Linked DNA regions of Homo sapiens: region 2 is linked to region 1. Evidence: fine-mapped expression QTL. A gene starts in region 1. The other region holds a variant in brackets. All regions are shown on one strand. Distances are between the middles of the regions. Region 1 holds the start of JAGN1 (jagunal vesicle mediated transporter 1). Region 2 overlaps CIDEC (cell death inducing DFFA like effector c).

What was found. PIP is the estimated chance that this variant, and not a neighbour inherited with it, causes the effect.
Region 2: its variant is the best candidate, but not a certain one, in a credible set for the expression of JAGN1 in subcutaneous fat (GTEx, PIP 0.84).

What each region holds. Positions count from the first base shown.
Region 1 is chr3:9,888,366-9,893,365 of GRCh38, forward strand. It overlaps JAGN1 (jagunal vesicle mediated transporter 1), which reads left to right and starts at 2,245. Exons shown (of 2, transcript NM_032492.4): 1 at 2,245-2,446; 2 at 4,550-5,000. The coding sequence starts at 2,358.
Region 2 is chr3:9,862,512-9,868,027 of GRCh38, forward strand. It overlaps CIDEC (cell death inducing DFFA like effector c), which reads right to left. Exons shown (of 7, transcript NM_001321142.2): 7 at 4,203-4,785. The coding sequence ends at 4,623. Among named protein-coding and RNA genes, the nearest start is that of CIDEC, 15 kb to the right of the region's middle. RefSeq lists silencers at 174-468, 1,574-1,868. The variant C/T (reference allele first, on the strand shown) is at 3,202.

The DNA.
Region 1 (5,000 bases):
TCCCAAAGTGCTGGGATTACAGGTGTGAGCCGTGCCCGGCCAATGTTGCTGATTTCTTGCTTGCCTTTCTCAGATCCCAGCCACACAGACTCCCTTCCTAGTGTGAGCCCCTTGCTGGTCATATGTGCTCTTGTTACCCACCTACAGATGTTAAATCCCAAGGAACTCAAATCTGTTCCTCTCTGTCCATTGCCACCTCCTAGCCCAAGCCACCCCTAGGATTGCCTGAATTACTGCAGTAGCCTTCAAGTGATTCCTCTGCTTCACCCTTGGCCCCTGCAAGCCATTCTCTACACAGCAACTAGATCTATCTTTATTTATTTATTTACAGACAGTGTCTTACTCTGTTGCCCAGAATGGAATGCAGTGGCATAATCATGGCTCACTGTAACCTTGAACTCCTGGTCTCAAATGATTCTCCCACCTCATCCTCCCGAGTAGCCTGGACTACAGGCACGCACCACCATGCCAGTTAATATTATTTTATTTTTTATTTTTGTAGAGACGGGAGTCTCACTATGTTGCCCAGGCTGATCTCCTGCCTTGGCCTCCCAAAGTGCTGAGATTACAGGCTTGAGGCACTGTGCCCCCACCTAGACCTATCTTTTAAAAATGCAAAACTGTGTCATTTTCCTGGTTAAACCTTTTAGTGGTTCCCCAAACCCCCTGGGATAAAGACTTAACTCTTTACTGAACCCTCCAAATGCTCCAGTCACTCTTAAGTTTCTCAGTTCTTTGAAGAGCCAAGTGCTCTCTGGATTTGGGGCCTTCACACATGCTGTTCCCTCTGCCTGAAAAGCTCTTCCGCTCCCCACCTCTTTAGCCAATTCCCACTCAGGCTTCAGACCTCAGCTCAATTGCTGCCACTCCAGAGAGACTTTCCTAACCCTCCAGGTCAGGGAGAGAGGCCTCATTTTTCCTCCCTCAGCCTCCTGTGTTTTCTTGAATTTCTTAGCTTCATGGGTACAAGTTCTTCCCCCGACTGGGCTGGGATCCCTCAGGGGAAATGGACCATGTTTATTTCTGCGTCCCCAGGTCATAGCAGAGCATCCTGGTGCATGGAAGATGCTCACTATACATGCTTTTTTCTTTCTTTTTTTCTTTATTCGGATAATATAACTTCTTTCTTTAAAGTTTCGCTTAGTATTTTGTTGTGGTAAAATGCACATAACATAAAACTTACTATGTTAATCATTTTTAAGTGTACAGTTTCCGTGGCATTAAGCACACACATATAGTTGTGCAATCAGTACCACCATCCATCTCCAGAACTTTTTTCATCTTCCCGAACTGAAGCTCTGTACCCATTAAACACTAGCTCCCCATTCTCTGTCCACCCCTCGAGCTTCTGGCAATGGTCATTCTACTTTGTCTCTACAGATAAAGTTTATTTGGAAATAATTTTTCTTTCATGGCCTTGACATTTTTGAAGAGTACAGTCCAGCTCTCTTCTAGACTGTCCCTCCGTCTGGATTTATGTCATTTCTTCATGATTAGATTCAGTTAGGTATTTTTGGCAGAAACATCATAGAAGTGATGCTGTGTCCTCAGTCTATTAAAAGAGGCACAAGATATCAGTTTATCTCATTATTGATCAAATTAACTGACTATATGTTTAAGGGAGACAAGCCAGATTTCCTCACTGAGAGATTCCCTGTTTCTCTTTGCAATAATTAAATGTGAGAAACTTATTTTGAGACAAAGTCTCACTCTGCACTCTGTCCCCCAGGCTGGAGTGCATTGGCACAATCTCGACTTACTGCAACCTCTGCCTCCCTGGTTCAAGCGATTCTCCTGCCTCAGCCACCCAAGTAGCTGGGGTCACAGGAACCCACCACACCTGGCTAATTTTTGTATTTTTAGTAGAGACGGGATTTCACCATGTTGCCCAGGCTGGTCTTGAACTCCTGACATCAAGTGATCCACCCACCTCGGCCTCCCAAAGTGCTGGGATTAAAGGTGTGAGGCTGTGTGAATGATGTGTGCTCCAGGGAAAGTCATAGAATATATCAGTTTCCCCCTCTGTAAAGTGTGGACAGAAGTATCCTAACTGATATTACAGCTTAAGAAAGTAAAAGTGTTCAAGCGGCCTCTGGGCGCCAGCAAAAGAGGCTGGGGATTAATTTCCTGCGCGCTCCACAAGAGGCGGGGCTGGGCGGGGCGGGGGCGAGAGGGAACGAGGGCGCCTGCGCGGAGAGGAGTGACCATAGAGTCGGTCCTCCAGAGACAGAGGGGCCGGAAGTTCTCTTCACGGAGCCGCGCGGCTGCGGGGGCGCAAATAGGGTCAGTGGGCCGCTTGGCGGTGTCGTTGCGGTACCAGGTCCGCGTGAGGGGTTCGGGGGTTCTGGGCAGGCACAATGGCGTCTCGAGCAGGCCCGCGAGCGGCCGGCACCGACGGCAGCGACTTTCAGCACCGGGAGCGCGTCGCCATGCACTACCAGATGAGGTATGAAGTGAGGCGAGGAGCACGGAGGCTTTCTCCCCCGCTGGAGCCTGCGGGGCTTGGGGAGCGACGCCGGCCCGGCCTCAGGGTCTTGCTCCCCAGCCAGCCCCCGCTCACCTGCCAAGTCCCCTCCTCCCGTGACGGCTTCGGGCCTGTCCCCCATCCTGGAAAGCCCCGTGGCCCCCGCGAGCTCCACCCCTTGTTCCGCCCGGTGCCTTGAGGGGATCCAGCCCCGCGTGGGCTCCCGCCCTGCGTGGGCTCCCGAGTCACGTCGATGCTGGCCCCGCTGTATCACCTTCGAAACCGAATTTCTAATTTGAGCCTCAGCTTCCTCATCTGTAGAGGGAGAGAATAATCTGCCTTTTAGGTTTTGGTGAAAGATTAATCAGTAATTCGTGTAAAGAAAGTAGCATAAGGCCTACCACGTAATATATGGTAGGTGTTATATTTTGGGCCGTTTGGGGGGATATAGACAGTAAAAGGCAGCCTTTCCTAAGGACGCCTTGCCTAAAATGAATTTTATAAACACTCCCACGTAAGGGGTATTTCTACATTCAATTACTAGTTCGACAAATACTGAGCTTCCAAACATCATACACTGCTAGACACTAGGTTATAATAGTGAGCAAAAGCAGACGTGGTCTTTGTATACATGTTATACCTTCAATAAACAATTTTATTAAAGAAAAAAAAAACTGTTCCCTGCCTTCATGGAGCTTGAAGTCTAGAGATGACTGTTTTTTTTTTCCAACCTTTCCACATTTTCTACAATAAATATTTTTAAATAAAAATTTTAAAATTTTTACTTCCTTAAATCCATTGATCTCTCCCAGAATGTTCTTCACATCTCTCTCTCCAGAGTTTTAAAGAATGACAAGCTCTTTGAACTCTCATTTGTTTCACATCTCTAGGCCCCGGCTGAAAGGGCCCTCACAACTTAAGCAGGTGTTTTCATGCCAGCCCAGAGTAGAAACATTGCCTTTAGGGATATGAGGAGGATACGTTTGGGACGTGAGAGAATTAGAAGAATAAGATAAGTATGTACTTCTTTTGGATGAAAAAATCTAGCTGGAGAAGTATGGGCGGCCTGAGTACGTTTCCTCTCTGCCAATACCTTCTCCCGCCAGACTTTAATCCTATGGTGCAGTCAGCGTCCTCTTGCTAAACACAGCTCTGAGCTACCCTTCTGCCTTTATTATTATTATTAATTTATTTATTTATTTTTGAGACGGAGTCACGGTCTGTCGCCCAGGCTGGAGTGCAGTGGCGCGATCTCAGCTCACTTGTAAGCTCCGCCTCCCGGGTTCACGCCATTCTCAGCCTCAGCCTCCCGAGTAGCTGGGACTACAGGCGCCCGCCACCACGTGCTGCTAATTTTTTTGTATTTTTAGTAGAGACAGGGTTTCACCGTGTCAGCCAGGATGGTCTCGATCTCCTGACCTCGTGATCTGCCCGCCTCGGCCTCCCAAAGTGCTGGGATTACAGGCGTGAGCCACCGCGCCCAGCCCTGCCTTTTTATTAGTAGTATTGTTGTTGTTTTTTTTTTTTATGGAGATGGGGTCTCATTTTGTTGCCAGGCTGGTCTCGAACTCCTGGGCTCAAGCAGTCCTCCTGCTTCAGCCTACCAAAGTGCTTGGATTAGAGTTGTGAGCCCAGCCTCTTCTACTTTTAACTCTCATAGTCTTTGTGATTCATATCCCACTACCCCTCTCCCCCTAACAATATGTTCCTGCCACACATAACCACTTGCTTTCCTGGAACACAAATACTTGGGCCTTTTTGTCTGCATGCTCCTGCATGGGATGCCCATCTTCACTCATTCCTGAGCCTAGTTCAGATATCACCTGCCTCTAGATAGCCATCTCTGACATTCCATGCCAGGCAGAGTTGATTCCTCCTTCCTGTGATCCCATATATCTGGGAACATATATTTACTAGAACTTTTTCACTTCATTTTCTAATTACTTTTTCCTCCTCTGTTCTTTGTGTCCGGCTTCTAGGCTGTTTTATTCAAATTTGTATCCCAGTGTCCAGTACAGTTGTCTGGCATATAGTTGGTGGTAAGAAAAATTTGAAAGATACTTCTCCCTCTGCTCTGCCCCACAGTGTGACTCTCAAGTATGAAATCAAGAAGCTGATCTACGTACATCTGGTCATATGGCTGCTGCTGGTTGCTAAGATGAGCGTGGGACACCTGAGGCTCTTGTCACATGATCAGGTGGCCATGCCCTATCAGTGGGAATACCCGTATTTGCTGAGCATTTTGCCCTCTCTCTTGGGCCTTCTCTCCTTTCCCCGCAACAACATTAGCTACCTGGTGCTCTCCATGATCAGCATGGGACTCTTTTCCATCGCTCCACTCATTTATGGCAGCATGGAGATGTTCCCTGCTGCACAGCAGCTCTACCGCCATGGCAAGGCCTACCGTTTCCTCTTTGGTTTTTCTGCCGTTTCCATCATGTACCTGGTGTTGGTGTTGGCAGTGCAAGTGCATGCCTGGCAGTTGTACTACAGCAAGAAGCTCCTAGACTCTTGGTTCACCAGCACACAGGAGAAG
Region 2 (5,516 bases), 26 kb before region 1:
GACGCAGCCGCACTGGGTCAGCTGTGGTCCTGGGGCAGTCGCGTCCAGGCAGGCGGCACTTAGGAAGGACAAACTCCAAAACCCAGGGATCCAAAGGATCCATGGGAAGATCGGGTGGCTCAGGGGAGTGACTCCCCGGCTTGGTCGGCGCTTTGAGGCCCCGGGGACCCAGCGGAGAGGGCTCGGGTGAGGCATCTGGAGGCGCTGAATGGGGCCGGGAGCCGCGGGACCCGCAGAGGGCGCCTGTCCGTGTGGGCGCAGCAGCGCCTAGAGGGAGGCGGCCCCGGCAGCCCGCAGGGGTCAGGCTCTGCTGGAGCAGGGGCGTCCCTGTCTCCGCTTCCCAGCGCAGGCTGGGTGGGGCCGATGGCCATTAAAGCCCCGCCCCCCGCGGCTCACCGCCGCCTGGCCCCGTCCCCGAGGCCAGAAAAGAGGAGACCCGAGGCCGTCAGACCGCCTGTCAAGGGCTGTCCTGGAGCCTGGCACCTTCCCCTCGCTCCCCGTCTGACCCCCAGAGGCCGTGCTGTCCAGGCTGACCCCGACTCTGAGCCATCGGGATGCCTGTCCACGCCTCCACTCCTGGGCCACTTCCCCGTGGGGCGAGCAGAAGGGCGGGCCGGGTGGGAATCTGTTGTACCCAGGGAAGGGAATTGCCAACAGGCCCAGAGAGTTTGAAGCCTGGGGTACTGTCACCAACAGGCCAGTAGCCTCGCAGCTGGGCCCTGCCCTAGAGTCTTCCTGCAGCAGGGCGCTTCTCCGGAGGAGCTGTGAATGTTTTCCCGGGTGGGGCTGAAGCCAGAGCCCAGAGGTTTGCCCCTGGGGCACGGATCCTCCAGGTCACTCGCCCCCCTACGGGCTGCAGTGAAGAAGGCTCTGAGGGGAGGATGGCCAGCGCCTCCCCTGCAAGGATAGGGGCCCCTGGGAACCCATTCCTGCTCTGGGGATTGCCTCCCTCCCCTACATCAGAGCCATCCACCGCAGAAGCTTGGCCAAGCTGACCACTCTGTCAGTGATCTCTGCCAGGGAGGCTGAAAGAACATCCAGCCCCACCCGTGGTCCCTTCCCGCCTCAGGCTATGTGACAGTATGACTCTCCACCTATTTCTTCGTTTCCACTGGAAACACTAGTAAAACAATTCCTCAGCCTCGACCCCAGGGAGCGGCCCCCACTAAACCAGCTGACGTGGGACCCCTGGGTCAATGCTGGCCAGGAGATGCGGCTGACATCAAAGACCCTGGGCCCCTGGGCCCCCTACAACCCTGGTCACGGTGGCCATGGGATTCCAGGCAGCACACATCTCAGAATCAGTATTTCCCCCACCCCACAAAAAATACATATATGGGTCGGGCGCGGTGGCTTGCGCCTGTAATCCCAGCACTTTGGGAGGCCGAGGCCGGCGGATCACGAGGTCAGGAGATCGACACCATCCTGGCTAACACGGTGAAACCCCGTCTCTACTAAAAATACAAAAAATTAGCTGGGCGTGGTGGCGGGTGCCTGTAGTCCCAGCTACTTGGGAGGCTGAGGCAGGAGAATGGCATGAACCCGGGAGGCGGAGCTTGCAGTGAGCCGAGATCACACTACTGCACTCCAGCCCAGGCGACAGAGTGAGACTGCGTCTCAAAAAAAAAAAAATTATATGCACAAATATGGGCATCGCTGGTAAGAAGAGTGGCAAAAACACAAGTGGTTCTCTTGTTTTGGGCTCAGACATGTGACTGTGGCATCACAGGCCCCCGGGATTTAGAATTCTTCTGAAAGGCATCCTGTGCACTCCCGAGCACCAGCTTGAACAGATGAAAAGGCTGAGCTGGAGGGGCTGGGACACAGTCCACCTTGACGACAGCTGCTCCTGGCTGTGCGGGGGGCCCCAGGAAAGGCCGTTCCCCCACTAGGACCGCCAGGCCCTACAGAGGCTCAAACTCCTTTGCTGTTTGGAATCTTCCCTCCCCAGCCCCCAAGCCTCATCAGAGGCTGCCTTTTCTGTTCACTGACCACAGCTGCTTTGACTCCATTAGCCTCGAGCTCCTGGAAGAAAAGAAAGAACCTTGTTTTCCCTGGGCTCAATGCCAAGAGACCATGGGCAGTTGCTCAAGATTCACTTGTGAAACTCCGGATCTCAGGAGGAGGGAAGCTTGGGACAAATACCGAGCCTCCCACCCCCACTCCAACTCTGTTACTGAGCACTTTACGGAAGGAGCAGGTAGGCCCCGCCACAGCTTCATCAAGGGTGGACTGGGATAGCTTCTGTGCTAATACAAACATCAGGCCTCCCTGCCAGACAGCCCACCCCATGGAGCCAGCCTGGCACCGGGCCAGCCTCCAGCCATAACTGCAAAAGAGCAGGAGAGCCCGGAATAGCAGGCCCTCTTCAGCGAGCTTCAGCCGCTTTGCCCATAGGCTGCAGGGTTTGGGTCCGCTGCCATAAATAGCTCCCAGACCATCTTTGGTAATATAGGCCTTTGCCTTAGTATTTACTACATCCAAATAGGCTTTATAGTAAGAGTAGTGAAACAATAGGTTTTGTTTTGTTTTTCGTTTTTTGTTTGTTTGTTTCTTTTTTGAGACGGAGTCTCACTCTGTCGTCCAGGCTAGAGTGCAATGGCACAATCTCGGCTCACTGCAACCTGCACCTCCCAGGTTCAAGCAATTCTCCTGCCTCAGCCCCCCGAGTAGCTGAGATTACAGGTGCCCACCACCATGCCCGGCCAATATTTTGTACTTTTAGTAGAGACGGGATTTGGCCATGTTGGCCAGGCTGCTCTCAAATGCCTGACCTTGTGATCCACCCGCCTTGGCCTCCCAAAGCGCTGGGATTACAGGCGTGAGCCACTGCGGCTGGCTGTGATAGAGTTTTTGAATCCTCTTTTTTTTTTTTCCCAGAGACAGGCTCTCACTCTGTTGCCCAGGCTGGAGTGCAGTGGCACAATCATAGCTCACTGCAGCCGCGACCTACTGGGCTCCAGTGAACCTCCTGCCTCAGGCTCCTGAGTAGCTGGGACTACAGCCACCATGCTCTGCTAATTTTTTTTTATTATCTAGTGTAGAGACAGGGTCTGGCTATGTTGCCCAGGCTGCTCTTGAACTCCTGGCCTCAAGCGATACTCCTGCCTCAGCCTCCCAAAGTGCCGGGATATCCGGCATGAGCCACTGCACCTGGCCAAGTTTTTAAATCTTTCAGTCACAGACTAAATAAAACAGTCA[C/T]CTACAAGTTCTACAAGTTCAGCCTTTTTTTTTTTTTTTTGAGATGGAGTCTCGCTCTGTCACCCAGGCTGTAGTGCAGTGGCACGATCTTGGCTTACCACAACCTCTGCCTCCCAGGTTCAAGCGATTCTACTGCCTCAGCCTCCCAAACAGCTGGGAGTACAGGCGCCTGCCATGCTGGCCAGCTAATTTTTTTGTTTTTAATAGAAACCGGGTTTCACCATGTTGGTCAGGCTGGTCTTGAACTCCTGACCTCAGGTAATCTGCCTGGCTCGGCCTCCCAAAGTGCTGGGATTACGGCGTGAGCCACCATGCCCAGCCTAAGTTCAGCCTTTCATGCTTGTCTTGAGTTGTCCAATACTGGAAAATGCCAGCTCACACTGATGAGAAGCTCCTACTCTTTGGGGCTACCTATGAGCCCACTTTGAAATCCCGAGGTTGAAAGTCCTGAACATGAAAGATAAGCTGTCTGGCAAGTTAGGATGGGCATTGATGGAGAAATGCCTTACAGCTTGAGTAGTACTTTTTCACCTAACCACTTAAACGGTTATTATAAAATGGGACACTGAGAAATTAGAAGAGTGACTTAATCCCACCTGCTCAATTGAAGCTCCTCTGATAGGTGAATTTAATTAGGAAATTGTTACTTATGGTATCAATTACATGGTCAGCTCAAGCCTCAAATTCAGCTGACTTTAGTTTCAAAATCAACTGCAATTTTGTTTTTTAAGGAGCCTGGGGTCTTGCTATTGTGCTCCAGCCTGGCCTTGAACTCCTGGTCTCAAGGGATGCTTCCACCCCAGCTTGCTGAGTATCTGGGACTGCAGGCACGTGTCACTGTGCCCAGCTGTTTTTTTTTTTCTTCTTTGGTAGAAAAAGTGCCATTAGCTGTAATCCTACATTAAAGAGAATACTTTGACAATAGATTCGTCTCTTCCTTTAGCCCCCTCCAACCTTCCAGATAAAACCCCACCCCAAAGAACACAGGCAAAGAAGATACATCAGCCTCAATAATTTATTGCAAACTCCCTAATATCACATGCTAGTGCGCTTGCGAATTCACTCAGGAATGTTCCGGGATGGGGGCCAGAAGGTAGAGAGCACCATGAAAGTACAGCCTGCGAGGCCAGATTGCTAAGGGGCAGACTTCATGCCAATGGAGGGACAGACTTCAGGACCAGTCTGGATGGGCTAAGCTGCCTTGGGCAGGAAGGAGCTGGATCAGGCCAGGAGCTTGAGGTTCTCCTTTGGCCAACCCACCCCAGGTTTCCAGCTCCTCCTCCTCACTCAGGGTCCTGCGCGGTGAGGGAGGTGTGGGGAGGTTCGCGGCTCTACAGCTGCCAGGCTTGTGGGCACTACCAGTTAAGCGTGAGGCCCCCAGTCAGTCCTTCACTGGGGAAAGCTTCCAAGGACTTGGGCTTTCACTGCAGTATCTTCAGACAGGTCGGGATAAGGGATGAGGCCTTGCCCTTGGGGGGCTGCCCTTCCTCCGTAGCATCGAGGAGCTGCTGCAGGTAACAGGAGGTGCCAAGCAGTACGTGGCCTGTGGCCTGCATGCTGAAGAGGGCCCAGCGGAAAGCTTCCCTGGGTGGAATGAGAGGGCACGCAAGTCAAAACCACGAAGTAGGTCGGGCATGGCGTTCACGCCTGTAATCCTAGCACTTTGGGAGGCCATGGAGGGCGGGTAACCTGAGGTCAGGAGTTTGAGACTAGCATGGCCAACATGGCGAATCTCTGTCTCTACTAAAAATACAAAAACTAGGCAGGCATAGTGGTGGGTGACTGTAATCCCAGTTACTCCAGAGCCTGAGGCAGGAGAATCGCTTGAACCCAGGAGGCGGAGGTCACAGTGAGCCGAGGTGGCACCACTGCACTCCAGCCTGGGTGACAGAGCAAGATTCAGTCTCAAAAAACAATCAAACAAAAAACACAAGGCTGGGCTTGGTGGCTCATGCCTGTAATCCTATAACTTTAGGTGGCCGAGGTGGGTGGATCATTTGAGGTCAGGAGTTTGAGACCAGCCTGGCCAACATGGCGAAACCCCGTCTCTACTAAAAAATACAAAAAATTAGCCGGGCGTGGTGGCAGACACCTGTAATCTCAGCTACTCGGGAAGCTGAGGCACGAAAATCACTTGAACCTGGGAGACAGAGGTTGTAGTGAGCTGAGATTGTGCCACTGCACTCCAGCCTGGGTGACAGAGTGAGTCTCTGTCTCAAAAATAAATAAATACATAATAAATAAAAACAAGAGTGTACCCCCTCCCTGCACCCCCTTATTCCCATGCTGGCCTGGAAGGGATTGGTTTCATTATG